Regions from separate parts of the Homo sapiens genome. Here regions 2 and 3 are each linked to region 1. The links come from fine-mapping of genetic effects on gene expression. A gene starts in region 1. Each other region holds a variant in brackets. All regions are shown on one strand. Distances are from middle to middle. Region 1 holds the start of TNFRSF10B (TNF receptor superfamily member 10b). Region 2 holds the start of PEBP4 (phosphatidylethanolamine binding protein 4). Region 3 overlaps TNFRSF10D (TNF receptor superfamily member 10d).

Evidence for each region. PIP is the estimated chance that this variant, and not a neighbour inherited with it, causes the effect. A credible set is the group of variants that fine-mapping cannot tell apart.
Region 2: its variant is the best candidate, but not a certain one, in a credible set for the expression of TNFRSF10B in skeletal muscle (GTEx, PIP 0.86).
Region 3: its variant is the best candidate, but not a certain one, in a credible set for the expression of TNFRSF10B in whole blood (INTERVAL, PIP 0.71).

The regions. Positions count from the first base shown.
Region 1 is chr8:23,063,001-23,073,193 of GRCh38, reverse strand. TNFRSF10B (TNF receptor superfamily member 10b) reads left to right here and starts at 4,163. Exons shown (of 9, transcript NM_003842.5): 1 at 4,163-4,443. The coding sequence starts at 4,300. It also overlaps the pseudogene TNFRSF10B-AS1. RefSeq lists enhancers at 1,843-2,342, 2,664-2,958, 3,740-3,909, 3,930-3,979, 4,520-4,779 and 1 more, a cis regulatory region at 4,173-4,178 and promoters at 3,633-4,303, 3,071-6,784.
Region 2 is chr8:22,918,808-22,929,000 of GRCh38, reverse strand. It overlaps PEBP4 (phosphatidylethanolamine binding protein 4), which reads left to right and starts at 1,087. Exons shown (of 7, transcript NM_144962.3): 1 at 1,087-1,178; 2 at 1,281-1,417; 3 at 8,691-8,817. The coding sequence starts at 1,287. RefSeq lists an enhancer at 8,527-9,455. The variant G/C (reference allele first, on the strand shown) is at 6,229.
Region 3 is chr8:23,126,143-23,136,335 of GRCh38, reverse strand. TNFRSF10D (TNF receptor superfamily member 10d) reads left to right here. Exons shown (of 9, transcript NM_003840.5): 9 at 1-748. Among named protein-coding and RNA genes, the nearest start is that of TNFRSF10C, 28 kb to the right of the region's middle. RefSeq lists a silencer at 6,455-6,524. The variant C/T (reference allele first, on the strand shown) is at 5,688.

The DNA of each region.
Region 1 (10,193 bases):
AAGTAACTGACTCTCACTGCTTTTTCTGTGCCATGTAAAACTTGCATTGTATTAATTTGTGTGCTTTTCTCCTGTGGACCTGTCTTATGTCAACTTAATTCTCAGGCCCAGCCAAAAAAAAAATACCCTTAAAGGGAGCTTAGCTTGCCTCCATGACCCTCAATGGTGGCTGTAATCAAACCACATCTTCCAGGCAAACAATACCACATCCTATGGCCTTGCAATGGCATGGCCTCCCTCCAGCACAGCCTCTCTGGAGGAGGGGGAGGCAAGGGTGGTGAGATCTCAGGCCTCCCTCATGCTACCTCCTATTAGTTATATGACCCCTGGTGTCACCTCTCCCACCACACTGTAGGCTCCAGGGAGTAGGATTCACATGGGGTTCATTTGTCCTCCCTGCCTTCAGCAGACTCCAGGCACAGGTGTTCCCAGAGTAAAGGGCTCACTGTCTGCTTCCTGGGTGAATCATTCTCCCCGCAAACCCATGAGGTGAGTGCAGTCGTGGCTTCAGCTCACCGCCTGACAGGCTCCAGGCTGTAGCACAGGGAGGGCCCTGTGGACTCTGCTGAGGAACCATACGAGCTCCCAGAGGCCAAGTGCAGGACAGAGAATAGAGAAGCAGCTGCTCAGAGAACTCTAGCCCTGTAGAGGTGCAAATATGGCTGCTATTATACAGAAGGTGAGGCCAAAAATGCTGGAGACACTGCTCCTGAATCTCAGTTTTGCCACTTGTAAAACAGGGAAAACAACCTACTCTCATGTCCCCAGGTTGTTAGGAAAATCCACTACATGAAGATGTGCAGTCTCTGGCTGGGAGCAGGACACCAGCTGCCCAACAGCACAGGCTCAGGGCATGGCACTGTCTCCACTGTCCCCATCCCCAACCTGGAAGCTAGAGCCTCGCTGCCCTGCCACTTCTGGATGCAGGACAGAGAACCGGAACTGGGACTGTGGTCTCTCAGTAGAGGCTGTGAACAGCCATCTGTGGCCACACGGATTGAGACCTTTCCTGCTCACTCTTCAAACTGGGGCACCGGCTGGGTGCCCAACAGAAAGACAATTGGAAGAGTGGCAGGTAAACCAGGCTGTGGCCCTGCAGTGCCATCACCGTCCTCATTTGAATTCTGGCTCGTCTGTTCCTCTACGGCCCCTCCGCATGGCGCTCCACCCCAGTCTTCAGAAATTTCTGCCTCAAGCTCAGGGAGCTGGTACTGAGGTACAGGTAGGAGAAGGTGCAGCCTCTGCTGAGTGGAGGACATGTGCCCTGGGGATCCAGAGTCTAGAGTGACTGACACCAGCCCTGCAATTTGTCCTCCTAGACCTGTTAACAGAGCCTGCAGAAGTTTACACAGGGCTGCTGAAGATTTTTATCCCCTCATTTTACAGGAAGGAGCTGGGGCCATACCAGAGTCAGAGCTGGACCGGGAGCACGGCAGGGCCCAGCCATCCACAGCCTCCAATTTCAGTACTCTCTAACAACCTGAGAGCCTGAGCCTTCGGATCTTCTTGATTCCTACTTTGATAAAGAGAGGGATGGGGTTGGAAGGACCTGGCATAGAGATTGGACCAGTCCGGCATTGACAGAGCCAGGACCTGGGGTCCGGAACTGAGCTCAGCTCCAGGCTCATCTGAAGTCACCCTGACAGCCTGAGGATGGAGACCTTATTTCCATTAACAGGCATGGCGGTTGGCAGGGACTGGCCCCAGCTGAGCACGGTTTTCCAAGTACACAGCTGGGAATTAAGTCTTCTCTGCCGCCCTCCCCTGTAGTCTTGCCTGGATCCCCCCAGTCATCTACTCCCAGTACCAAAAACTCCTGTATTCTTGAAAATCCGTAGTACTGAGAGGTGACAGCTTGCTGGCAGTCCTCAACAGCCCTCGCTCGCTCTCGGCGCCTCCTCTGCCTGGGCTCCCACTTTGGCGGCACTTGAGGAGCCCTTCAGCCCACCGCTGCACTGTGGGAGCCCTTTTCTGGGCTGGCCAAGGCTGGAGCCCGCTCCCTCAGCTTGCACGGAGGTGTGGAGGGAGAGGCGCGAGCGGGAACCGGGGCTGCGCGCGCGGCACTTGCGGGCCAGCTGGAGTTCCGGGTGGGCGTGGGCTCGGCGGGCCCTGCACTCGGAGCAGCCGGCCGGCCCTGCCGGCCCCGGGCAATGAGGGGTTTAGCACCCGGGCCAGCGGCTGCGGAGGGTGTACTGGGTCCCCCAGCAGTGCCGGCCCACTGGCGCTGCGCTTGATTTCTCGCCGGGCCTTAGCTGCCTTCCCGACGGGCAGGGCTCGGGACCGCCATGCCTGAGCCTCTCACCCCCTCCGTGGGCTCCTGTGCAGCCGGAGCCTCCCCGACGAGCACCTCCCCCTGCTCCAGGGCGCCCAGTCCCATCGACCACCCAAGGGCTGAGGAGTGCGGGCGCACGGCGCGGGAGCACGGCGCGGGACTGGCAGGCAGCTCCACCTGCAACCCCGGTGCGGGATCCACTGGGTGACGACACCTGGGCTCCTGAGTCTGGTGGGGACGTGGAGAACCTTTATGTTTAGCTAAGGGATTGTAAATACACCAATTGGCACTGTGTATCTAGCTCAAGTTTTGTAAACACACCAATCAGCACCGTGTGTCTAGCTCAGGGTTTGTGAATGCACCAATTGACACTCTGTATCTAGCTAGTCTGGTGGGGCCTTGGAGAACCTTTGTGTCCACACTCTGTATCTAGCTAATCTGGTGGGGAAGTGGAGAACATTTGTGTCTAGCTCAGGGATTGTAAACCACCAATCAGCGCCCTGTCAAAACAGACCACTCCGCTCTACCAATCAGCAGGGTGTGGGTGGGGCCAGATAAGAGAATAAAAGCAGGCTGCCAGAGCCAGCAGTGGTAACACTGTGGAAGCTTCCTTCTTTCCCTCTGCAATAAATCTTGCTACTGCTCACTCTTTGGGTCCACACTGCCTTTATGAGCTGTAACACTCACCTTGAAGGTCTGCAGCTTCACTCTTGAAGCCAGCGAGACCACGAGCCCACCAGGAGGAAAGAACAACTCCAGACCCACTGCCTTAAGAGCTGTAACACTCACTGGGAAGGTCTGCAGCTTCACTCCTGAGCCAGTGAGACCACGAACCCACCAGAAGGAAGAAACTCCGAACACATCCGAACATCAGAAGGAACAAACTCCAGACACGCCGCCTTTAAGAACTGTAACACTCACCGCGAGGGTCCGAGGCTTCATTCTTGAAGGCAGTGAGACCAAGAACCCACCAATTCCGGACACAGTACCATGAAGGAATGAAAATACATAACAATGTGATGTATCATGTTTTATTTCCTAGACTAGTGACAAATGAAAGCTAAGTGTAGCAAGGGTGCAGGGACACAGGCACATTTGTGGACTAGGTGTGAGTGTAAGCTGGGTTCGATGGTCTTTTGGCCAACATAGTGAACCCCTGTGTCTACTAAAAATACAAAAATTAGCCAGGCGTGGTGGTGCAGGCCTGTAGTCCCAGCTACATGGGAGGCTGAGGTGGGAGTATCGCTTGAACCTGGGAGACGGAAGTTGCAGTGAGCCGGGATCACACCACCGCTCACCAATCTGAGCCACAGAGAGACTGTCTCAAAAAATAAACCACAAGGAAGGGAGGTAGGGGGAGGGGGAGGGAGGGAGGAAAGAGAAAGAGAGAAAGGAAGGAAAGAGAAAGCAGGAAGGACGGAAAGAAGACGAAAGAACGAAAGAAAACGAAAGAAAAAAGGAAAGAAGAGAGAAGGAGAGAACAGAAGGGGCAGGTGCCCCTGGGAAGGGGAGAAGATCAAGACGCGCCTGGAAAGCGGACTCTGAACCTCAAGACCCTGTTCACAGCCAAGCGCGCGACCCCGGGAGGCGTCAACTCCCCAAGTGCCTCCCTCAACTCATTTCCCCCAAGTTTCGGTGCCTGTCCTGGCGCGGACAGGACCCAGAAACAAACCACAGCCCGGGGCGCAGCCGCCAGGGCGAAGGTTAGTTCCGGTCCCTTCCCCTCCCCTCCCCACTTGGACGCGCTTGCGGAGGATTGCGTTGACGAGACTCTTATTTATTGTCACCAACCTGTGGTGGAATTTGCAGTTGCACATTGGATCTGATTCGCCCCGCCCCGAATGACGCCTGCCCGGAGGCAGTGAAAGTACAGCCGCGCCGCCCCAAGTCAGCCTGGACACATAAATCAGCACGCGGCCGGAGAACCCCGCAATCTCTGCGCCCACAAAATACACCGACGATGCCCGATCTACTTTAAGGGCTGAAACCCACGGGCCTGAGAGACTATAAGAGCGTTCCCTACCGCCATGGAACAACGGGGACAGAACGCCCCGGCCGCTTCGGGGGCCCGGAAAAGGCACGGCCCAGGACCCAGGGAGGCGCGGGGAGCCAGGCCTGGGCCCCGGGTCCCCAAGACCCTTGTGCTCGTTGTCGCCGCGGTCCTGCTGTTGGTGAGTCCCCGCCGCGGTCCCTGGCTGGGGAAGAGCGTGCCTGGCGCCTGGAGAGGGCAGGGAGAGAGGGGGACACGGCGGGGGTGCGTGGCCCGGGTCGCCTGCGGCCGGGCATGTCCGGGCAAGACGCACCAGTCGTCGGAGTCGGGGGAAGAGATGGGTCCCCGGGTTGGGCAGGAGCGACCTGGGCCGCCAGGGAACAGAGCGCGCGCTCCACTTGGTGTAAATTCCCGAATCCAGTGGGGGAGGGCGACAAGGAGGGAATTCCCGAGTAAGCTGCGTGAAGCCACGGAGAGGTCGTCGGACTTTGATTTTGTTTTCTTTCCTTACTTTCTGTTTCTTTCTCTTTTTCTCTTTCTTCCTTTCTTTCCCTCCCTTCCTTCCTCGCTCAGTTCCTGCCTTAATTTCTTTTTCTTTTGCGCCTTCGAATGAATTCCTAAAGGCGCTCATTGCAGATCGCTTTGAACCTGCGGCCGGCGAAGAACTCCCCTGTGGTCGCTGCGGCCCAGTGGTTCCGTTCCGTGCGCGGGAGTCGTCGCGGGCGCAGCTGGAGAGGCCCCTTCCCCTCCTTAGCGGCTGCGCCCCTACGCGTGCGGGGCCGCTCATCGCCAATGCCATTGTTTGGGGTTCCTTGGGAAAACGAGATTTAGGAGAAGGGAGTTGTGGCACTTGGGGCCTGACCTGCTTGATAATAGCAGCTGCATTTTGGCCTGGGAAGAGCCTTTCTTGCCACCTCTTGGCAAGTATCCGTGATAATGGGGAAGGGACAAAGAGTCGGCTTTGTAGGGAACAGCATGGTGTGCTCAGCGCCTGGAACTGCGCTTGGGGCCAGGAGAGGTTCTGAATCATCACATTTTACAGAGGAAGAGACCGCAGCTCAGAGTGGGGAAGTGTGTGGGCCTAGACCTAACTCAAGACTGTACAGAGGGGCTGGAAGGGAGAGGAGGAACAGTGAAAGGAAGGTCAAGAGAATGCTGGTGTTGACCTAGAAGAATGTCAGTGTGAAGCATTGGAGTTTCATGGGATATTGTTACACACCTCATGTTTTCACTGTTTCCGCCCCACACCACAGTATGTCCTTGGTCTCACCTCTGAGTGGAGGGAGGACCTAACTGTCCTAGTGAGGAGAGTGTACAGGGGCCTCTGCCTCCCCCTCCTGCTGTGGTTTCTGTGGGCCTAGGTCCCCAGGGCATCTTGCCTCTCTTTGGGTGGTGGATCTTTGGTCTCTGGCTGCTTTTAAAGATTTTTCTTAGCACTGGTTTGCAGTGATTTGGTTTGTTTGCTCTGTTGTGGGGTTTTTTTTTTATCTCTATAAAGAATTTTTTGGATTTTTGGCTTTAGACTTTCATGTTCTTTCTACTTGGAAGATTTTTCTGTAAAGAAAGCCACAACTGGGTTGTGTTGAATTTCTTGGATTTGGGGTTTTAGAGTTTATGTTCTCCTTGGAGACTTTTCTGTAAAGAAAGCCACAACAGCCGGGTCTGGTAGCTCATGCCTGTAATCCCAGCACTTTGGGAGGCCGAGGCGGGCAGATCACATGAGGTCAGGGATTCGAGACCAGCCTGACCAACATGGTGAAACCCCGTCTCTACTAAAAATACAAAATTAGCTGGGTGTGGTGGTGGGCACCTGCAATCCCAGCTACTTGGGAGGTTGAGGCAGGAGAATCACTTGAACCTGGGAGGCAGAAGTTGCAGTGAGCAGAGATGGCGCCACTGCACTCCAGCCTGGGAGACAAGAGCAAGACTCCAACTCAAAAAAAAGAAAGAAAGAAAGCCACAACAGAGTTATGTTGAATTTCTTGGATTTGGGGTTTTAGAGTTTATGTTTTTGTTTGTTTGTTTGTTTGTTTTGAGATGGAGTCTTGCCTCTGTCGCCTAGGCTGGAGTGCAGTGGTGGGATCTCAGCTCACTGCAACCTCTGCCTCCTGGGTTCACGCCATTCTCCTGCCTCAGCATCCCGTGTAGCTGGGACTACAGGCATGCACCACCACGCCCAGCGAACTTTTTGTATTTTTAGTAGAGACGGGGTTTCACCGTGTTAGCCAGGATGGTCTGGCTCGTGATCTGCCCGCCTCAGCCTCCCAAAATGCTGGGATTACAGGGGTGAGCCACCACGCCCAGCCGAGTTTATGTTCTACTTGGAAGATTTTCAGCCATTATTTCTTCAAATACTCTGTCTCTTCTGGTGACTGAGATCTTATTATATTTACGTTAGAATGTTAGATTTTGTATCAGAGCTAACTTAGTATCTGTTCTTTTTTTTCCCCCATCATTTTCTATGTTTCACTTTGGACATTTCCCTGTGAGGGCTCTTCAAGTTCATTGATCTGCTTCTGCAGAATCTAACCTGCTGTTAATCTCATCTACTGTATATCAGATATATATTTTTTGAACTTTAGAAGTTCTCTTTTGGCATTTTTAATATCTTCCATCTATTTCCTGGTCATCTTTGTGTTTTTCTTTTTTGAGACAGGGTCTTACTCTGTCACCCAGGCTGGAGTGCAGTGGCACAGTCAGAGTTCACTGCAGCCTCAACCTCTTGGGCTCAAGTGATCCTCCCACCTCGGCCTCCCAAGTAGCTGGGACCACAGGCACTTGCAACCACACCTGGCTAATTTTTGTATTTTTAGTAGAGACGGGGTTTCACCATGTTGCCCAGGCTGGTCTCAAACTCCTGCGCTCAAGGAATCCTCCCACCTTGTCCTCCCAAAGTATTGGGATTACAGGCCTGAGCCACCGTGCGCAACCTATGATTTTGGTGGTGGTGTTTTTTGTTTTTCTGTTTTTTAAATATTCTTGAGTATATTTGTAAGCTTTAGATGACCTGTTTTAAGTTATTTAATCTATCAACACCATTATATCTGTTATTACGGCCACTGTTTCTGTTGATTACATTTTTTTTCCTGCCCATAGGGACTTTTTTTTTCATGCATAGTAATTTCTTATTGCTTGACATTGTGAATTTTGCTTTCTTGGGTACCGAACATCACTGTGTTCTTTCAAAGTCTATTGGGCATTATTCTGGTCACAGAAAACTGAGGATCAGTTTGCTCCTCTGATACTAGCTTTTATCTACATATAACTATATACCTTGTGTTCAGTTGCCTTATTCAGGGGCTCATTTAGTTAACTACTAAAGTTATAGTGGTTGACTTCTGATGGTAACTCGCCAGCACCCTGGCATGCGTTCTGTCCACTGTGGGAAGGGGAACATGCAGATCTCCCAGCCCTGAGTGGTCCACAATCTAGTCTCTCCTTCCCTGGGTGGCTTCTTCTCAGGCACCTAGAGTCAGTCTCAGCAGACACTGGACATGTCTTCTGCAAGGATCCAGAGTCCTCCAGGCAGCTGCTTCTCCCAGTCTCTGCCCTGCACTTGGCCTCTGGGAGTTCCTGCCTGTGGTTCTCAACAGAGACTACAGAGCTCTACAGGGTCCTCTGCCCCTGCTGTAGCTGGAGGCTGTCCTTACGCAGTGAGCTGAGGCCACAGCTAGTCTCACTGCATGTGCTTGGCGGCGGGGACAGGAGTGATTCATTCATCAGGTAGAGGAGGAACCCTTTACTCTGGGAAAATCTGTGCCTGGGTTGGGGAAGGACAAATGAGCCCTGTGTGAATACTGACTACTCCCTGGAGCCCACAGTCTGGTGGAGCAGGTGACAGCAGGGACCTAAATAACTATCAGGAAGCATGAGGTCCCACCACTGTCACCTCCCCCACCTCCAGAGTGGCTGTGCTGGCTCCAGAGATGTCATCCCTCCATATTTGACTGACAGAGGGAGGCTGTGCAGTCCCAAGGCTCCAGGTCATGGTAGTTTGGCCAGGATAATATGGTTTGCTTAAAATCAACATTGAGGGTAATGATCGTACTAATCAGAGCATGTGTTTAAAGTTCTGTGTTTTAAGCACTTTCCATACATATTAACACTTTCAGTTCACACAACAACCTATGCAGGAACTGTGATTATCCTGGGCAGTTTTAAGGATGTGGGTGACTCAGAGAGGAAAGAAGAGGTTACTCGGGTTAATTTTTGACGAGAAATATTAGCAGGTTTTATGCTCAAACTTGGTGTAAAGCAAGGAGCCTGAATCACAGGTGGGTGAGTCACAAGACAGGGAAACCCCGCCAATGGCTCATGTCCGGGAGGAGGCAGGGTCCCTAGAATTCAATGGGACAAGAACTGAAATAAGCCAAACCCCTGACCTCCCTTCTTCTTGTTTTCCTTCTCTCTCTTAACCATGCCCATGGACACCCCCATGAGCCCATTTCTGTGGCCCAACACAGCTGTGCATCTCTGGCCACACGCCCATTCTCCCTCAATCAGAGAGGCCCACGGACGGCACAGCCTCGTCCTGCACAGCAGAAAGAGTGAATGGTGATGAATGGATCTATATTATTTCAACTCTCCTACATTTTGTAATCATATTACAATATTAATTCAGCAGTACCTCTCTTGTTTTTACTCCCCTCCCCCATTACACTGGATTCCTGTCTGTCTGGGATTCTGTCTGTGTGCACTCTTTCCTCTATGTCCACTACTGTCCCTGCCACCGATGGCATTTGTCACCTCTGCCTGGGCAGCCCCTCCAGACTCTTTGCAAGTTCATGGACTTTGGGGTTAATGATGGCTGTGCCTCAGCTCCTGTGAATGGAAACTGTGCTAAGGAAAGGAAGGGCCGTGCCATGTTCCCGATACTCCACGGCTCCTTGCATATGCGGTCGCCAGGCGCCTACATGCCTTCCATGAATGAATGAATGAGTAACGTGGATTCTAGGAAGCTGCACTAACCCAGACGTTGTGTCCTCAGCCTGCTCATAGAGTGTGTTAAACGTGAGAGGTGGGGAGTGTGGCAGGCAGGCTGAGGACAGAACAGAGGATCTGAATAGAGTACGGAGGATCACCCAAGTCCAGAGTCACCAAGGCCATTGTCAAGTTTTCCCCGGGGACATCCCTCATCAGATCCACCCATTAAAGATCATTGTTCACCCAGTGGAGAGTGGACTAGGTGGGTGCACTCAGGTGTGGCCTGGACAGCATTCGGGATGGGTCCTAGTGGTTAGGGTGAGGGTCAGGTTGCATTATCGTGAAGGAGGCAAGTGGCAGCTGAGGCAGATCTGAGGGAAATGATGATAACGCAGGCCGGTGATGCAATGGGTTTGGTAAGAAGAGGAAAGAGGTTTGTGGTGGATTCTAGTGTTTCTAATCTGAGACTTGGGTGAGGTCATTACCAAATAAGAAAGAGTAAATGGGCATAAATGGCTTTAAGAATTAGGAACCTGAATGTGCTATTGGAGACAGTATGGGCACGTCATTGCTCATAGACCTGCAGTACACAAAATGCTAAAAGATTTCAATCTGAATAGAGATGAAATGAAATGGAAACATGGATTTTTTTTTTTTTTTTTGAGACAGTTTCACTGTTGCTGCCCAGGCTGGAGTGCAATGGCGCAATCTCGGCTCACTGCAACCTCTGCCTCCTGGGTTCAAGCGATTCTCCTGCCTCAGCCTCCTGAACAGCTGGGATTACAGGCGCTTGCCACCACACCCAGCTAATTTTTGTATTTTTAGTAGAGACCGGGTTTCACCATGTTGGCCAGGCCAGTCTCAAACTACTGACCTCAGGAGATCCACCGCCTTGGCCTCCCAAAGTGCTGGGATTACAGGCATGAGCCACCTTGCCTGGCTGGGAACATGGATCTTAAGGAAAGAAGGAAGATCATCAGGAATAGAAATATGAATGCACATATAAAG
Region 2 (10,193 bases), 140 kb after region 1:
AGAGAACCTAATGATTGAGAAATGTGTTTAATATGTAGCCCCTAAGGGGGGCTTTTTGCTACAGGTTGGGATCCTGGAGGCAGGAATTGAGCCAGAAAGCAGACTATGCTGAAAGTAGTTTCTCTAAAGGTCTAGCTGCGTGTACTTTACAGCGATGATCTCATATTCCTTAGCAAGGCACCACGGTGACAGGAATTATTTTACTTGTTTGTGAAAAGGAAAAGTGGTGCATTCTAGGGAGACACAGTGGCCTCCCAGCATCCAGAGAGAGCTCAGAGCAGAAGCCAGGAGTCCTGAGTTGCTGGCACGTCTCTCCCACCCCCGCCTCTGAGAAGCAGAGAGCAGAGCTATTGGAAAGCCTGTTGCAAGCCGCCTTTATTCTTCTCCCTGCCCACTCAGGCTCAAACCAGAGTCCCACATGCACCTGGTGGCAGGACTGTTCCCCAAGGGAATGCAGGCGACAGTCCCCGGCTCCCCTTCCTCCCAGTGCACTGCTGGGGCAGGCCACCCCTTTCTGAGCCCCAAGCAGCTCCCCAGACCTCCTTCTCCAGATACGATTATTTTGGGAGAGTGCTGAGTGCAGCACAGCTGCAAGGTGCACCCAGACGCACCCTTCTGTCCTCAGCTGGCCCTTCGGAGCTGGCCCTTCGGAGCTGGCCTCGGTCTGGGGTGCACCTACCCCCACCCCCTGCAGCAGTCCCTCCTACACAAGGTCACTGTGTCCAACCACCTCCACCTTGGGGAAGCTCACAGGCTGTGGAGACAGGTGGTGGAAGAATGGGGGCCAGGAGAGTCAGAGCCGGTCTGAGGGGCACAGCCCAACTCCTAGCCCTGAGCCTGGGGTCACCAGCTTCCCAGGGCTTGCCTTACAGCCAAGGAGCAGGCTGGCCTTTGGCCAGCTGACCATCCCTGGGCCAACAGCAGGGACTGGACAAGGAGCTGCACCGAGGAGCTTATATAAGCACTTCTACTTTGCAGCCTGCTCTCTGCCCTGGCAGCCAGGACAAGAGTGACAACAAAGCTGTGTCCTGCCAGGGGAGGGGCCTCTGCCAGGAACGTACATTGAGTCCAACTTGGAAGAGGCCCAGTCCTCCCAAAGTACTTGTGTCCGGGTGGTGGACTGGATTAGCTGCGGAGCCCTGGAAGCTGCCTGTCCTTCTCCCTGTGCTTAACCAGAGGTCTCTATCCTGCCAAGTGGGCCCCTGGGGTCGGGGGCACAGGTAGTGGGCAGGAAGGCCCCTGCAGGGGATCCAGCCGCTCTAAAGTTCTTTCTGTTCCAGGTGCCCATGGGTTGGACAATGAGGCTGGTCACAGCAGCACTGTTACTGGGTCTCATGATGGTGGTCACTGGAGACGAGGATGAGAACAGCCCGTGTGCCCATGAGGCCCTCTTGGACGAGGACACCCTCTTTTGCCAGTAAGTCAGGGCAGGCTTGGAGGCGGGAGGCACAGAGGCTACCAGGCAGGTAGATGGCAGGGAGGGGTATATCCAGAACCAAGAAGCACCATCTCCTGAGCCTGATTTTATGGGAAGGCAGAACACGTGTCAGATCTGGAGACCACCTTGATGGAGGATGGCACTGAGAAAGGGATTTAGAAACAGACTCCTTCCTGCCTTCCAGAATGCACCTCTCCCAGGACCAGGAGGGCTGTGTATGTGGTCGGCTCTGCTTGGGCCCTCCAAACCTGGGGGGTCTTTGTGGGGGCAGGAGGCTGAGACCCTCAGAGAGAGACCCAGAGAGAGACCATCCCTCCCTGCAGCCTGAATGCCCCCTCTCCCCAGAACCCCAACAAAGAGGCATTTGAATGAAAGAAGGTGTATGATTAGACCCTTCCTGTGTGAGAGGTTTTTGTCAGTGATAGGACCCAGGAGCGTTTGTGCAGGGCCCTTTAGGGATCATGGCACTGGATGGAGTTGGGTGACGAGGCTGGCTTCTTCCCTTCCAAGGGCACAAGCTGCTTCTACTTTGGGTAAGCTGGAAAGCCTGGCGTTCGGCTCTCTCCTCACCAACTCTGCCGGTTAGAAAAGCAAGCCTTCATTTGTGTGGACTTGTGGGTCATCCTGAGGACTCCCCAGGCCAAACTGATGCCAAACCTCCCTGCCAGTTTGGTGGCTGAGGAGGGGGACACCCCACTGAGCCCACGTGTGAGAAATGAGAGAGGAGGAAAAAGAACTTTGACTACTTACTCTCTTCTGTACCTTTGAATTTTCACAAACATTACTGTTCATGAAAATGTTTGTTTTTCTTTTTAATTTTATTTAAAACATTTTTGACAAACATTACTTTTAGAACCATAAATACATGTCTTCTCTTAAAATTATGTAGTTGAATCCTTCTTAAAAAGTAACATTTTTGTTGGGTGAAGTGGCTCACATGTGTAATCCCAGCACTTTGGGAGGCCAAGGTGGAGGATCACTTGAGCCCAGGGGTTTGAGACCAGCCTGGGCAACATAGAGAGACTCTTTTCTCTACAAAACAGTTTAAAAACTAGCCAAGCATGCTGATGCACACCTGTCGTCCCAGCTACTCAAGAGGTTGAGGTGGGAGGATCGCTTAAACCCAGGAGGTCAAGGCTGGTCTGAGCCATGATTGCGCCACTGCATTCCAGCCTGGGCAACAGAGCCAGACCCTGCCTAAACAACAACAACAACAACAACAAAAAGTAACAAACTTTGTTCGTGTCAGTATATTTTGAAAAATCTTGTTAAATAGTTCTGGGTGTAGGCTGGGCACGGTGGCTCACACCTGTAATCCCAAGACTTTGGGAGACTGAGGCAGGCAGATAACAAGGTCAGGAGTTTGAGACCAGCCTGACCAACACGGTGAAACCCTGTCTCTACTAAAAATAAAAAAAAATTAGCCGGGCATGGTGGCGCACACCTGTAATCCCAGCTACTCAGGAGGCTGAGGCAGGAGAATCCCTTGAATCTGGGAGGTGGAGGTTGCAGTGAGCCGAGATTGCGCCACTGCACTCTAGCCTGGGCGACAGACCAAGACTCTGTCTCAAAAAACAAACAAAAAAACAAACAAGCAAGAAAACAGTTCTGGGTGAAGTTTTCACGTGGAAGGAGGAAGAGAAACGTGGTTGCCTCTCACAAGTGGGATCTAATTTTCTAGGTGCTCTGCTGAGTGAGCTGAGGGGCTGGCAGGCTTCTCGCTCTGAGCAGTGCAAGGTCAACACCCCCGTAACCAGGAGAGGTCAGCTGGGCCAGGGTACAGCAGGCCTGGGCCACAATAAGGGCCCCTTAAGGAGGACCTCAGCAGTTCCTGGTGTTTCCCACACTGTGGGAAATGAGGATGTCTGTAGGGTCATTGGGGGTGACCAGCCTGAGGCTCCAGATGCCCTAGGCTCTGCCCTGCCAAGATCACATGTTGGTGCCCTGGTGACCCATGCATGGGGACACACGTGGGAAGTCCCAGGGCACCTTCTGTGTGCCAGGTGCTCTGCCGGTGCCTGGACTCCTTGACTCCTTTCACTGTCAGTAACGAACCTACAAAGTCTGTGTTAGCACCCCCATTCTGCAGATGAAGAATCCCCAGAGATTAAGAAATCTGCCCACAGTGTTTACATAGCTTAAAAGTAGCAGAGCCAAGATCTAGCCCCCTTGTCTGACTCCACACTCACGCTCTTTCCCTATCTGCTTCTGACAACCTTCACCCCAGGTTCAGGGCTCCCAGACTCGAGTCAAGGGGGCCCATTCTCAGGACTCCCAGAATACACCAGCAGGCCCCCAGTCTGAGAAAGAGACTTATGACCTTAAGGTTGCATGCCAGGAAGATGTCTTTTGATTTCAAGCCATCATCGCAAAAGAGGAGCTTTGTCTTTATTGTCACTGAAGATTTTTGTTTGGAAGAGAGCATCATGAATGATGATGAAATGAAAAATGCATCAAGGACAGATCGGACCCCTGAGGAGACAGCAGGACCTCCTGCACTGACCCCTCCTCAAGATCCCCACTCGGCTCAGGCTCTGACCTTGGCAAGAGATCCCCCAGAGAAGGCACTCCTCTTGTGGGCATTTGGTCTACCAGGGAACTCTTAAAGATTGGACTCAATGCCTAAAGGTATTAATCTATAAGGGAGGAATTTTATGTACTGTGACAAGCTGTGAGACATTGTTAAGAGTAACGCTTCTCGGGAATCAGACCTTCCCTGCTTCTGAGATACCCCAGACAAGACCAGCAAAACCACCGACGGTCCCAACCCTGGGCTCAGTCGCAGAATGGAAAGAACCATGATTCTCCAAACCTGCAGCCAGGAGGTGAATCCACTCAAAAAACCCCACCTGCTGCTGCCATCCAGTCAGCCCTGCAAGCTCCCCTAGGGATGGGAGCTGCTGCTCAAAGCGTCCTGCTTTTTGGTGTTGAAAAGCTCCGTTCTTCAGAAAGTACATTCTTACCCCGAGGCCCTGCTGCTCTTCTTGAACACCAACCCTACCTGTTGTAGTGCGGATCCACGAGGTGCACAAACTAGTCTAGTTTCTCATCTTCTTTGTGGTCATTCATGTGTGTGGTGACAGGTGCCATGCCCTGCCCTGCCCCTTCATCCCCAGCTCCCCCCAACCTGGGCAGTCATCCCCAGTCCTTCAACCTCTCTCAGGGGCCTTGGTCTCTCCTGTTTAAATACATTTCTTTTAGAGACAGAGTCTTGTCTGTCACTTAGGCTGGAGTGCAGTGGCCTGATCATAGCTCACTGCAGCCTTGAACACCTGGGCTCAAGCAATCCTCCTGCCTCAACGTCCTGAGTAGCTGGGACTACAGGTGCACGCCACCACACCTGGCTAAGTTTCTTATTTTTTGTAGAGTTGGGAGTCTCGGTATGTAGTCCAGGCTGTTCTCAAACTCCTGGGCTCAAGCAATCCTGCTGCCTCAGCCTCCCAAAGTGCCGGTATTACAGGCATGCACTGCCATACCTGGCTTGCTGTTTTTCAAGTGGGGTGACCCACACTTTCACAGTGAGCCCCCTCTTCGAGGCAGCCTCATATCCCATGTGTCTTTTTGTCATCCTCACTGTCTTAGTCTGTTCAGCTACCATAACAAAATACCTTAGACTAGGTCATTTCTAAACAGCAGGAATGTATTACTCACAACTCTGGAGGCTGAGAAGCGCCAAAATCAAGGTGCTAGTGGATTCAGTGTGCGGTACAAGGTTGCTCTCTGCTTCAAAGATGGCACCTTCTTGCTGCGACTTCACATGGGGGAAGGGAAGGGCAGCTCCCTTCAGCCTCTCTTATGAGGGTGCCTTTTATAAGGGTGACTTAATCACCTCTTCCAAGTCCCGCTTGTTAATACCATCATATTGAGGATTAAATTCCAACATATAAATTTTGAGGAGACACAAACACTCAGACCATAGCACTCACTGAGGGGCAGCTGAAATTCTAAGCCCTTCATACAGGCACAGCTGAGAAGCCACGTTTCTAGAGACAGGGTCTCAGTGCATCACCCTCTGTCACCCAGGCTGGAATGTAGAAGCAGGATCATGGCTCACTGCAACCTTGACCTCCCAGACTCAAGCGATCCTCCCACCTCAGCCTCCCATATAGCTGGACTACAGATGCGTACCACCACACTTGGCTAATTTTTTCTATGTTTTATAGAGACAGGATCTCACTACGTTGCCCAGGCTGGCCTCTAACTCCTGGGCTCAAGTGATCATCTCACCTCAGCCTCCCAAAGTGCTGGGATTACAGGCTTGAGCCACCACGCCCAGCCCTTGTGATCTAATTCTTGCCATGACAGAGACCCACATGACCACCTAGCTCAAACTGAAGCCTGGAGGAATGAAACAGCTCACTAGGGAAAACGTGTGGTGCGGGGAAGAAAGTGCAGCCAAGCCCACAGTACTAGTTCTCTGTTGTACACAACAGATCACTCCAACACGTAGCAGCTGCAAATAGGTATTGTCCAACAGTTTCTCAGTTACTCATCTGGAGATAGGAATAGTGATAACAGCTGCCTCAAGGTATGGTTGCATGAAATGAAATCATACATATGTGATGTCCCCGATATATTGGGGTGGCCCAGTAAAAGTCATGCCCTTCATCCCCAGTCCCTTATGTAGCATTAGTTCATGGCAAAGCTGGGGCCAGGGCCCCTGATCTTTTCACTCCACTGTCTAGAGTGCCTTCAAGTCTTGTCAAGGAGATCAGGAGATCCCCAAACTCTCCACATGGAAATTAGAAGAATTCCATGTCAGGTAAACCACAAGCAGCAAGGGCACACAG[G/C]AAGGTGGCACCTTTGAGGTTTTCTGGCTTGAATGCAAGTTGTTTTTGAGATAGGGTCTTGCTCTGTCACCCAGGCTGGAGTGCGGTGATGCAATCATGGCTCACTGCAGCTTCTACCTCCTGGGCTCAAGTGATCCTCCCAAGTAGCTGGGAACACAGGCAGGCACTACCATGGTGTTTTTTTTTTGTTTGTTTGTTTTTTTAATTTTTGGTAGAAACAGGGTCTCACTATGTTGCCTAGGCTGGTCTCAGATTCCTGGGCTCAAGTGATGCTCCCACCCCAGCCTCCCAAAGAGCTGAGATTATAGGCATGAGCCACCGTGCCTAGTCTTGAATGCAAAATTTAAAGTGTATTTTCTCAGTAACTTTAATTTTTGATTCAGCTCACCTCAGGTTTGTCCAGGTCGTCTCGTAAGTCAATTTGATCATCAGAATTGTTGGTTACCAGCTCTGTGCCATCTGCAGATCAAATAAATTTGTCTCCGTGTCCTTCTCCAAGACTTTGCTAAAGCAGCTGAGCAGGGCAGAGGCCTGCACATGCCCCTTTCCCATCATCCTAGGTGGGGCAATACGCTATGTTCAAACGCTGGCCTGGCAGTGCCCTATGGGCGTGAAGAGAGGGACAGAGACAAGACCCAAATCCCTGGTTCCCTGGCATGTGCCCTGTCCTTCAGGGCACTCTCTGTGGCTCTGTGCCCACCTCATCAAATAACAATTTGATGATTTTGCTTGTTTAATCCTTTTGATATTTACAACAATTCCACTCTGATAAAAAGGGGAGAGGGGTTATGGGCGTGAGGGCGTCCCTCCACCCTCAGTTTACCTCCTCCCTACCTCTCAGTTTTCCCATCCTGTGCTGTTTGCTGTCTGTCTCTCTGCCCTTGGTGGGTCCCCTCTCTGCCTCGCATCTCGCTAGCTGCGGCAGCAAGGAGTTGCAGCAGAAACAAACCAAACGGTCCTTAAGATGATGCTAGGAAGATAAAACTGGTCACCTAAAACTTCTCCAAAAGCTGTGAAAATCTTGCCATCCACCAAGAATTGCTGTAAATGCGCAAAGAGTTAGAAGAAACAAACTTGCTCAGCAAGCCCATGACTCATCCGGCTTCCACTCTCTGAGACCAGAGCATGTGACTTCTGGCACTGGGGGCGCTGGCCCACCGAAGTGTCCTGGTCCGGGGCTGCCAGGTGCTGGGGGCTCAGCGGCCTTTTGCCCAAGGCTGGACTTCAGGAGCCACTGGAAGGGTGGGAGGTGGAAGGTGGGAGGGGCAATGCAGGGTTCCCCACCAGGAAGCTGCTCTTGGCCTACTCCCAGGCCCCAGGTTCAGGGAGCTCCCTTTCCAGATCTATTCTCCAAATTACATCCTCACAGGGTCCCCTTAGATATCACCCCCAGCAAGGCACTGTGGACCGCTGTGGGTGGCTACCGGCAGGCTGTAGAGCGGCTTAGCCCTGCAAGGTGTTAGGAAAGGCTGGGGACCTGCAACACCCACTCTCTACCCACACCCTTTCTCTCTCAGTGATGTCTTAACCCTCGTTAACCCTACAGAGGACTTAGGTCATGGAGATAAATTATAATAGAAGGGCAAGCAAAAACAGTTTTAAAAAATGTCTTTGAAAAATCTTACCTGTGTTCCTGAGTGTCAAATATAAGCATGCACTTACAGCCAGCCTGGTGCTGTCATGGCCCAGCCCGGCCTGCCCTGCCCTGCAGGCTCTGTTGCCTTGCTCTGCATCATATTTTCTTCCCTTCCAGGAAGCCACATTCTTAGAACCCTGGTGCTGTTCGGGCCCTTCTTCTCAGGGAGCAAATACATGAACTGGTTCATTCATACTGACAGTCTTAGTGAGCCAGTGTTTTACCCCCTGAGGGATGTTTGCATTTTGAAAGAGAACCTAGGCTACAGTCAATGCTTAACCCAAAGAAGCCAATTCTTCACCTAATGGTGGGATTTCAGGCATGGGGAGCTCTTGATTGTTTAGGGGAGAGAGAAGGTCTATGCCCTTGAAGGAAGCTGTGCTGACTTGCTAAGCTTTTCTTTCTGTAATAAGAATGTTCCTGAAAAGCAATCTATAGGTATTGTTTTTATAAACTCAATCCTACTTTAAAGACACTAAGTTTGCCTAAGGATATCTGTTCTTCTAGGGAAGTAAAGGCTGATGATAATTAATATTATACTTTCTGATGACTTACAACGTGCCAGGTTCTGTTCTGACCATTGACCGCCACTTTTCTTCTCACACTGACTCCATGAGGGAGGAATTATTAGTGTCTTCGTTTTACAGGTGAGGAAACTGAGGCACAAGGAGGTCAAGTAACTCTTCGGTCACACAACTAGTTAGTGGCAGGTTTAGGATTTGATCCCATTTCACTTTACATTCCCAATAGTGCTAGACTGAAGCCTTGGGAACCCCAGGCTCCCTTAAAACCCTGACACAGGGCAACCTCCCCTCTCTCTTCATAGGGGCCTTGAAGTTTTCTACCCAGAGTTGGGGAACATTGGCTGCAAGGTTGTTCCTGATTGTAACAACTACAGACAGAAGATCACCTCCTGGATGGAGCCGATAGTCAAGTTCCCGGGGGCCGTGGACGTGAGTGAGCAGGGCTGTGTTAAAGCGGGGGGACAGTTGGGGGTCTTGATGTTCCTCCAGGCTTGCTCATCTGGGTGACTTGAAGCTGCGTGCAGAGCCATCTGGGTTGGGTCTGGTGGCTGCAGATGGCTGTTGCCATAAAGTTGTGCCTTCCTTAGAGTGGACTTGAGGAGAAGGCTGGGGGCTGGTGGGAGGGCTGCAGACTGGAAACTTTGGTGATGGTTGAGGCCATTCTGCCCAGGCCTTTTCCTGCTCCCCTGCTCTGGGAGCTCCTTGGCTGCCCCTGAGATCTGGGACCCCAAGCCTGGTGGAGACCAGCTGGTGTGTGCTTTGGAGTTGGCAGATAAGTGGAAGAAGGCGTGGTATGGGAGGAGTCCTCTCTCAAGGCGCGGGGTGCCTGGGCCTTCAGATGGCTTCTGGGCTGGAGAGAAGCTGGTATTTACCAAGACAGAGCTTCCCAAGTTGCCTAAACAGGCAGAGGTCAGTGCATCTTGACGCTTTGTTGTCACAACATGAGACACGCTCTTCTTTTGCCCAAAGTTGTGTAAAAGAAGAACAAAGCATTTTAGGAACTGGAAATAACTATTTTACTGGGCAGTGATTAGTGCTATTACATTTAGGGGTCTGGAAAGCCTGGGGAAGAGTCATAGAAGTGGGAAATGGGTCTGCTGCTGCCCTAAGCAGCCAGAGTGTGTTTTGGGGAAGCTGATCTGGCCTTCTGGTCTCCGCTTCTTTATTTCTTGACTCCTGGGCCAGACTGAGCCCGCAGAGTGTCAATGGTGGAGACTGGCCTCTTTTCTGCTGTGTTTTAGAAGGAGGTGCTGCTGTCAATCTAGGCAGGACTTGGGTCACAAATGCCTGGAGATGGAAGGGTCGTGGCCGGGATGTGACCAAGCACACACACCAAGGCTGACCTTCTGGTCCTTTCTGTGCAGGGTGGCAGGGAAGGGCCACAAGGGGTTCTTCCTTCCCCTCAGTGCTGCCTTGGTTAGGCCTCATGCAGTCAGCTAAGCCCAGTAGGACAACAAGCTCCAGAGGGCGGCAGCACACAAGTTACTCCAATGCGGGGAATAGACTCTTCTCTTTGAAGTGTTTTTCACTATCAGAGAGCAAATAGATTGTGATATGGCTCGCAAGTTATGAGGCTGTTGTCATGAAGCTTTGCTAGGTTGTCTTGTTTGCAAACACGACAAACACCCTTTCCTTTGGGAAGACGAGCAATAAAGTGCACACGTGCACATGTGTGCACATGTGCACACACACACTTGCATGCACACCCATGTGCACACAGCGTCAGCCCTCTTCCCTGGAAACCCTTGGACTGGGCACACCTGTGGACAGCCAAGAGGAGCAGAGAAAGGAAGCCTGCTGATTCT
Region 3 (10,193 bases), 63 kb before region 1:
TAAGCATCTGACTCATCTCAGAGATATCAATTCTTAAACACTGTGACAACAGGATCTAAAATGGCTGACACATTTGTCCTTGTGTCACGTTCCATTATTTTATTTAAAAACCTCAGTAATCGTTTTAGCTTCTTTCCAGCAAACTCTTCTCCACAGTAGCCCAGTCGTGGTAGGATAAATTACGGATATAGTCATTCTAGGGGTTTCAGTCTTTTCCATCTCAAGGCATTGTGTGTTTTGTTCCGGGACTGGTTTGGCTGGGACAAAGTTAGAACTGCCTGAAGTTCGCACATTCAGATTGTTGTGTCCATGGAGTTTTAGGAGGGGATGGCCTTTCCGGTCTTCGCACTTCCATCCTCTCCCACTTCCATCTGGCGTCCCACACCTTGTCCCCTGCACTTCTGGATGACACAGGGTGCTGCTGCCTCCTAGTCTTTGCCTTTGCTGGGCCTTCTGTGCAGGAGACTTGGTCTCAAAGCTCAGAGAGAGCCAGTCCGGTCCCAGCTCCTTTGTCCCTTCCTCAGAGGCCTTCCTTGAAGATGCATCTAGACTACCAGCCTTATCAGTGTTTAAGCTTATTCCTTTAACATAAGCTTCCTGACAACATGAAATTGTTGGGGTTTTTTGGCGTTGGTTGATTTGTTTAGGTTTTGCTTTATACCCGGGCCAAATAGCACATAACACCTGGTTATATATGAAATACTCATATGTTTATGACCAAAATAAATATGAAACCTCATATTAAAAAGGTGTGGTGTTCGTTTATTTCCATCCTCCTCTCCTGCTGTGACACAGCTCTGAGTGACAGGAGGCCAGGGCTTCGTTCCTGCTGGGCCTCCTTACTTGTCCCTTCTCTGCCTTCAGGCTTGGCCCGCCTGGCGGTGGGGGTGTGGGGGGAGTTTCCTGCCTATGACTCCCTGGATTTTAAAGGACCAGGTTCTTGGCTACTGGAATTCGCGCCTCCTCCCTGTTTCTCTCCTGTCTGCTCCTCCCTCTGGGGAGAGGGACAGCAGCCCTTCCCTGTATCCCCATCAGTGGACCCAGGTTGCTCAGCCCTGCAGGCACCTGTGAGAGCCATTTCCCACTCCCCTTGCGCTGGAGGACCTGCTCTCCCTCTGGCCCACAGCTCCCAGGAGGCCCAGGCGTGCTCCCATGCTGTCTGCCTTCCCTAGAGGGGAGGTGGGGCTGCGGCTGCTCCATGCTACCTCCTGCTTCCCGCCTGCACTGCCCATGGCCTCACTTGGAACCCTGGGCTGGGTGAGCTGCATGGAGGCTGAGCATGGAGGGGCCTGGGCTTGGGCAACATGGCTTCCCCCAGAGTTAGAGCTGCTTGTGTTGCCACCGCCTACTGTCTATGAGGATTTAACCCCTGATCTCCAAGTCTTGGCGCCACACAGCCATGGCAGGGGTTGTCTTTGTTTCAAGTTTGCTCTATCCCAGACCTAACCAGCGTTTTCCTGGAGCCCACCCCATGGCCAGGCCCTCTCAGCTAGAACATCTTTCTCAGGCAAGGTGACTCCTGAGCTCTGAGCCCAGAGCCCCACTGCCTCCTGGCTCTGCCCTTCCTCCGTGGGACTGCATCTTTTACATCTAAGAAGGATGTGGGCAGTGAAATTTGGGTCAGGGTTAGAAAACAGAAAGGGGCAATTGTGGCCCAGCCTTTGCCCCTTGGGGGCTGGGAGCTACCATTTCCATCCTCCACATTCCTCCAGCCCGGCTCTCCTCCTCTCTGGACCAACCCTGCCTTTCCTCCTTCTCCATTCTCCCTCTTCTTCTTCCCTTTATCCCACCCAGCAGTAAATAAGTGTCACAGGGGAGAGACCAGTATCTGGCCCAGTGGCGCAGAGGTAACAGATTTTACCAAGACAGTTGTAGGTAAAGAAAAGCAGATTTATGGCTGGGCACGGTGGCTCACGCCTGTAATCCAAGCACTTTGGGAGGGTGAGTCGGGTGGATTACTCAAGGTCAGGAGTTGAAGACCAACCTGGCCAACATGGTGAAACCCTGTCTCTAACAGAAGATACAAAAATTAGCCAGGAGTGGTGGCATGTGCCTGTAATCCCAGCTACTCGGGAGGCTGAGACAGGAGAACTGCTTGAACCCAGAAGGGGAGGTTGCAGTGATCTGAGATCACACCATTGCACTCCCACCTGGGCAGCAAGAGCAAAACTCCATCTTAAAAAAAAAAAAAAAGCAGATTTATTAGAGAAAGTAGGAAAATGTGTAGCAAGGAGGCAATGGGCAAGCCAGCAGAAGAGGAGCTGACTGCAAAGTAACAAAGGCTTACTGGAGATTTTATAGGCTAGTGTTTATGCCAACTGTTGAAGAGGGCTTTGTGCAGTACTGGTAAGCCAAGGTTGCAGTGAGCCGACTTGCAGGTGTCTGATGATAGCTGAGTGCGGGAAGATTGTGAGTTATTTGCACAGGAGGGCTTTGTGTCCTGGACCACGAAGAAAGGCAGATTTATGTAAACCGTGAAAATCTGAGACAGATCTCAGTTAATTTAGAAAGTTTATTTTGGCAAGGTTGAGAATGCATGCCCTTGACATAGCCCCAGGAGGTTTTGATGACATGTGTCCAAGGTGGTCAGAGCACAGTTTGGTGTTTTGTTTGTTTTGTTTTGTTTTGTTTTTGAGACAGAGTCTTGCTCTGTCACCAGGCTGGAGTGCAGTGGTGTGATCTTGGCTTACTGCAACCTCCACCTCCCAGGTTCAAGCTTCTGCCTCAGCCTCCTGAGTAGCTGGGATTATAGGCGCCAGCCACCATGCCTGGCTGATTTTTGTACTTTTAGTAGAGATGGTTTTTCGCCATATTGGTCAGGCTGGTCTCAAACTCCTGACCTCAGGTGATCCATCCACCTTGGCCTCCCACAGTGCTGGGATTACAGGTGTGAGCCGCCACACCCAGCTGGTTTTATACATTTTAGGGAGAACATGAGACATCAATCAACATATGTAAGATGAACATTGGTTCAGTCCAGAATAGGTGGGTTAACTGGAAGCAAAAGCAGGACAACTCCAAGCGGGGAGGGGGCTTCCAGCTCATAGGTAGATAAGAGACAAATAGTTACATTCTTTTGAGTTTCTGATTAGCCTTTTCAAAGGTGGCAATCAGATGTGCATTTATCTCAGTGAGCAGAGGGTGAATTTGAATAGAATGAGAGGCAGGTTTACCCTAAGAAGTTTTCAGTTTTGACTTTTCCCTTTAGCTAAGTGATTTGGGGCCCCCAAGATTTACTTTCCTTTCACGCTTACCTGCTTTCTCTTTTTGCTTTCCCCTGCTCCCACCAGTCTGGCTCACTTTCCCTAATTAGGACTCCACAATAAGGCTCTGTGTCCTATGGCCTTTCATTACAAGAGACTTATTCTCTAGGCCAGTGCTCCTTTCCCTGACCTTTGACTCCAATCTGGTTCTCTCCCAACACACACCCTGGGCACCCCATGGAATGCCCCTCTGAAGGTGAGGATGGGAGTCTACAGTCTCAAGATGGACTTAGAGCCAGAAGTTTGTGTATGTATTTGAAAAGAAATCTTGGACAACTTTCTGACCAAGTTCATAAGGTAGCTTCCTGAAAGAAATAGAATTACTGTGTTAATGTCCAGAGGCATTTTTTTCTGCACACACACACACACACACACACACACACACACACACAAACACACTCACACCCATGTGCACACCACATACACATGCACAGTTTTGGTTCCAACAACACTTCATTAGTCTTGAGCTGATGTGCTTGCTCTTTCGTTTTTGTTTTCTCAAACTAGGAAGAAATTAATTAACTTAAATATGCATTTCTTTATTTTTGGACTTAGGTGTCACATGTTTATTAGCTGTTTGATTCTCTTTTCAAACTGATAACTTACAACTTTTATCCTGCCTATTGAGATACGGGTCCCTACCCATGCACTTTCTCAGATGCAGATAATAGGTTTCTACTTTCTTGTTTGCAATTTTATTTGGTCAAAGATTTCCATGTGCAGAATTTTTAATGTTAAGAAGCTTAATCTATTGATATGTCTATTTTGTCATTGATTATAATCTTATGAAAGTCCCCTCCTGGACAAAAGGTAATGTAAACTTCTTTAGTTTTTTTTTTTTTTTTTTTTTGAGATAGGGTCTTACTCTCTCACCCAGGCTGGAGCACAGGGCTCACTGCAGCCTCAACCTCCTGGGCTCAAGCTTCCTGCTTCTGTCAAGGGTTTATCCTTCTATTTTATTCTTTGTAGTCATCATGAATAGGATTGTCTTATAGTTATGCCATTTCTCATTAGACCAATAGAATCCTAAATCCTCTTCTCCCACCCTTTTCTCCTCCCCCTACTGTATCCGACCTTGTCCCCTAACAACACCCTACACCGATCTGTCTTTCCCTTCCTCTTTCACCTTCCCTCCTGGCTGTAGTTCAGGGCCTATATCAGGTAGAGGGCCTCCTGAGGGCCTGCGGAGTCCTGCATGACAGGCACTGGCCCCCGGATTCCTGAGCACTGGAGCTGAGGCTAACCTGAATTTGATGAGCAATTTGATTGCCCTGTTTCAAGAATTTAGTGTACTAGGCCGGGCACTGTAGCTCATGCCTGTAATCCTAGCACTTTGGGAGGCAGAGGTAGGGAGTTCAAGACCAGCCCGACCAACATGGAGAAACTTGGTGTCTACTAAAAATACAAAATTAGCCAGGCGTGATAGTGCATGCCTGTAATCCCAGCTACTTGGGAGGCTGAGGTAGGAGAATCACTTAAACCCCGGAGGAGGAGATTGCGGTGAGCTGAAATCGCCCCATTGCACTGTAGCCTGGCCAACAAGAGCGAAACTCTGTCTCAAAAACAAAACAAAACAAAACAAAACAAAATTTAGGCCGGGTGCGGTGGCTCACACCTGTAATCCCAGCACTTTGGGAGGCTGAGGCAGGCGGATCACAAGGTCAGGAGATTGAGACCATTCTGTCTAACATGGTGAAACCCTGTCTCTACTAAAAATACAAAAACAAAATTAGCTGGGGGTGGTGCCGGGCGCCCGTAGTCCCAGCTACTTGGGAGGCTGAGGCAGGAGAATGGCATGAACCCGGGAGGTGGAGCTTGCCGTGAGCCGAGATCGCGCCACTGCACTCCAGCCTGGGCGACAGAGGGAGACTGTGTCTCAAAAAAAAAAAGAATTTAGTGTACTAAAGAATGTAAAATGTTTCATTAATACTTTATTGTGCATTAATTACATGTTGAAATGAGAAAAGTTTGGTTATATTACATTGAATAAAATGTCATGAACATTAATGTCGTGTACTTCTTTCATGAGGATATTAGAAAATATAAATTTGTGTCTTGGCACAGTGGCTCATGCCTGTAATCCCAGCACTTTGGGAGGCCAAGACAGGCAGATCACGAGGTCAAAATATCAAGACCATCCTGGCCAACATGGTGAAACTCCATCTCTACTAAAAATACAAAAATTAGCTTGGCATGATGGTGTATGCCCGTAGTCCGAGCTACTCAGGAGGCTGAGGCAGGAGAATCACTTGAACCAGGAGGTGGAGGTTGCAGTGAGCCGAGATTGAACCACTGCACTCTAGCCTGGTGATGGAATGAGACTCCGTCTTAAAAAACAAAAAAACAAAAAAAAACCCAGAAAATATAAATTTGTATTCCTGACTCACCTTATATATCATCGGGTAGTGTATGTAGTACATTTCA[C/T]ACACATCTCATTTAATCCTCCTTATAGTCCCTGAGCTGGTAATTCTTGCTCCATTATACAAGGTAAATTATCCCTCAGAGTCTGTTTCCCCCCACCTAGCTCTGCACAGTACCCATGAGTGAAGCTAAGTTAGGTTTAAAACCAGGAAAACCAGGTTTTTGTCATCAGCAAGATAATTCTACAGGAGGCTCTCCACTTTTCCTCTCTTTGTGGAAGCACCAAATAAACATCTACACATGAATCAGTTTTATCTGAGAGAAACCCAGAAACTAGTGGAGAGACTCCTACACATGGGGAACTGAGAAAACTCCACATTGAAATGGGCAGGAAAAGCTGGGACACATTCACACACAAACACCACCCCGTGTACACTGCTGCGCATCAGGAGAAAACTCCCAACCCCCAGCTTCTCCCCCGAGGAGTCAAGTGCTTAGGCCACCCATATAGTACCCCAACTTTTACAGTTCCCCTGGAGGGTTTAGCTTTTACATTACCTAGATGTGGGAGCGACAGACACCTTTCCTGCTCACTCTTCAAACTGCAACCTGGGCAGGGCACCCACCAGAAGGACAACTGGAAATATGGCAGGTAAACCAGGCTGTGGCCCTGTAGTGCCATCGCTGTCCTCACTTGCAGTCTGGCACCTCTGTTCCTCCATGGCCCCTCCCCATGGCACTCCAACCTAGTCTTTAGAAGCTTCTGCCCCAAGCTGAGGGAGCCGGTACTGAGGCGCAGGTAGGAGCAGGTGCAGCTTCTGCTGGGTGGAGGACATGTGCCCTGGGAATCCAGTCCAGAGTGACTGACACAAGCCCTGAGGATGTGGTTTGTCCTCCCACACAACCTCACACTGCCAACACAGTCCACTGCGGTTTATACAGGCCCTCTGCATAAATAAGGCCTCTCTGTCTTATTTTACAAGAAGGAGCTGGGCCACACCAGAGTCACAGAGTTGAAGAGGAGCACCGCCAACCCTGGCCGTCTTTAGCCTCCAATCTCTGGGCTCTTTGACAGCCTGAGTGTCTAAGCTTCTGAGCCTTCAGAATTTCTCAGTTCTCACTTTGATAGACAGAGGGGCGGGGTGGAAGGACCTGGTACAGAGATTGGACCAGCCCAGCACTGACAGAGCGAGGACCTGGGGTCAGGAACTGAGTTCAGCTCCAGACTCATTTGAGGTCATCCTGACAGCTTGAGGACAGAGACCTTATCTCCATTCACAGCCATGGCAGGTGGTGGGGACTGGCCCCAGCTGACCACGGTTTTCCAAGTGCACAGCTGGGAATTCAGTCTTCCCTGCCACCCTCCTCTGCCATCTCATCTGAGGTCTGCGGATCATTTACACTCAGTCTCAGAAAACTCCCGGACCCTGGAAAATCCTCAAATAATGCTGAGAAATCAAAACCACAACAGTGAGATGCACCATTGTTTACTTGTTAGACTAGCAAAGAATGAAAGTTCAGAGTAGCAAGGGTGTAGGACTCTTGGTGTGAGAGTAAACTTGTTGTAATTTTCTTTTGGAGGACAATTTGTCAAAATCTAAACAAAATTTTTAAATCATTAACTCATCGACTCCGCAATTCTGCTTTTAAGTAGTGCACATGACTATCTGGATATGTGATACCTACAAGATGATTGCTGTTAGAATTTTCAAAAACAAATGCAACTACCCACAGAAGGCAACAGTAGAATGGACCATAGTTCCACTATGAAAGAAGCTACTATGCTTTTGTTAAAAAGAATGAGACAAATGAATGTATTGACCAAAACATCTAATATAATATATTAGCTTCAAAGTTTGGTTTTTTTTTGAGATGGAGTCTTGCTCTGTCACCCAGGCTGGAGTGCAGTGGTGTGATCCCGGCTCACTGCAAACTCTGCCTCCCGGGTTCACGCCATTCTCCTGCCTCAGCCTCCCGAGTAGCTAAGACTACAGGCACCCGCCACCACGCCCGGCTAATTTTTTGTATTTTTTAGTAAAGATGGGATTTCACCATGTTAGCCAGGATGGTCTCAATCTCCTGACTTCATGATCCACCCACCTCAGCCTCCCAAAGGGCTGGGATTACAGGCGTGAGCCACCGCGCCCGGCCTAGCTTCAGAGTTTTTAAAAAATAATTATGCCTGTAAATACATCTTTCTGCCAGTGTTTCCAAGGCATCCTGCAGGGTGTGGACCAAGGGGCCCCACCTGGTTTTGCTGACCCATCTCACTAGCATCCGTACAAGGCATTCCCAGGGATCGCTGCATCAGCTCTGGCCATGAGGATCTCATTGTCCATGAGGCTCGGCTGCCTCATGAGCGGGTTCCAGGAGTTAAAGGGTAGGATCTGTCCAAAGTTGTAGAAGCACAGCCTCTGAGCTGGGTGGAGAAAGCCATGTAGAGAGCCAGGTGAATTGGGACTCAGTTCAGAAAGGACAGAAGTTCCCACATTAGGCCCAGAACCCAAGGGGGGAACCTGGAGAGCCCCCTGCATGGATGAACCTACTGCTCCAGCGCCCACCTGCTTCCCATCCATAGAGAGCGCGCCCACACTGCCTGGCCTCCCTGACACCCAAGGCGCTGCAGGGAGTCAAGGTCATCAGAGAATCAGCCCTCACACAGGGCTGAGAACCCATCCAGTGAGGCTGAAAGCAAAGTGGGTGAGAGTCCGAGGGAGGGAGAGACAGTGGCTGCAGCAGGAGCTCAGAGGAGGGAGGAGGCTGCCTGGGCTGCGCTTGTCATGGGAGCAGGTCCCAGGGTGGCCACTTCTGCATCTGTGGAAACCGCAGGGTCTGTGGGGGGGATCTCTGTTTACACCCAGCTCAGCCTCATTCCCTGAGGCCGGGGCAGAGGTAGGTGGGGCAAACAGATCCTGAGCAATAAGTCACCCCAAGAGGGAGCAACCCCACCCAGATCTCAGGACTGCGAGGGTGCGAACCCAAAATATCTGAGACAGGTCTCAATCAAGTTAGAAAGTTTATTTTGTGGCCAGGCACAGTGGCTCCTGCCTATAATCGAACAATTTGGAAGGCCAAGGCCAGTGGATCACTTGAGGTCAGGGGTTTCAGACCACCCTGGCCAACTTGGCAAAACCGTGCCTCTACTAAAAATACAAAAATTAGTTGGGTGTGGTGGCACATGCCTGTAATCCCAGCTACTCGAGAGGCTGAGGCACAAGAATCTCTCGAACCTGGGAGACAGGGGTTACAGTGAGCGAAGACCCTGCCACTGCACTCCAACCTGGGTGACAAAGCGAGACCCTGTCTCAAAAATAAATACATAAATAAATAAAAATTTTTTAAAAGCTTATTTTGCCAAGGTTGAGGACACGCCCATGACACAGGCTCAGGAGGTCCCAACCAAAATGGTTGGGGTCAGCTTTCTGTTATACATTTAGGGAAAGATGGGATATTAATCAATATGTGTAAGATGTACATTGGTTCTGTCCAGAAGGGTGGGACAACCAGAAGTGGAGGCTTCTAGGTCATAGGTAGATAAGAGACAAAAGGTTGCATTCTTTTGGGTCTTTGATCAGCCTTTCACTGAATACACAGCTTATATGTAAAAGAGTAGAGGTGGAGGAATAGTCACTCATGCCTTAGTCTGGCTCAGTGAATCTGCATTTTTCATAAACAATAGGGCGGAGGAAGCAGTCAGATATGCATTTGTCTCAGGTGGACAGAGGGATGACTTTCTGTCCCACATGTGAAGATCAGCTATCAATTTACATTGCCAGAGTGAAATTCAGCAGAACTGTTTTAGGGTAAGGATCTTGAGGCCCACAAGGAATTCCCTCATGGGCGAATTGTGAGGGAGGTATGCAGCTTTTTAATCTTTGTAACTATCTTATTTAGGAATAAAATGGGAGGCAGGTTTGCCTGACAAAGTTCGCAGCTTGACTTTTCCCTTTGGCTTAGTGATTTTATGGTCCCAAGATTTATTTATTTTTCACATGGGATTCAATAAAATGTGTGTGCATCACACGGCACACCGCCTTCCTTAGAGAGAGAGAGGGCCAGGAATACGAGCTTATGTTTTGTACAGCCTCGTTTAAAGAATATAAAAAGAAACAAGTGACATTCACTGATATTCATTCACCTTTTTCATCTGAGACCCTTCAGCTTTTAGGTGTCTGTAAAAGACAGTGGGCCAGGCGCGGTGGCTCACTCCTGTAATCCCAGCACTTCGGGAGGCCAAGGTAGGTGGTCAAGGAGGCCAAGGTCAGGAGATCGAGACCATCCTGGCCAACATGGTGAAACCCTGTCTCTACTAAAAATACAAAAATTAGCTGGGCATGGTGGTGTGTGCCTATAATCCCAGCTACTAGGGAGGCTGAGGCAGGAGAATCGCTTGAACCAGGGAGTTGGAGGTTGTGGTGAGCGGAGATTGCGCCACTGCACTCCAGCCTGGTGACAGAGCGAGACTCCATCTCAACAAAAAAAAAAAAAAAAAAAAAAAGACAATGGAGAACCCCCTTGATCAGAGTCAGAAGTCGTGGATTCCAGTAGTGACCCTGAGAAGCCACCAGC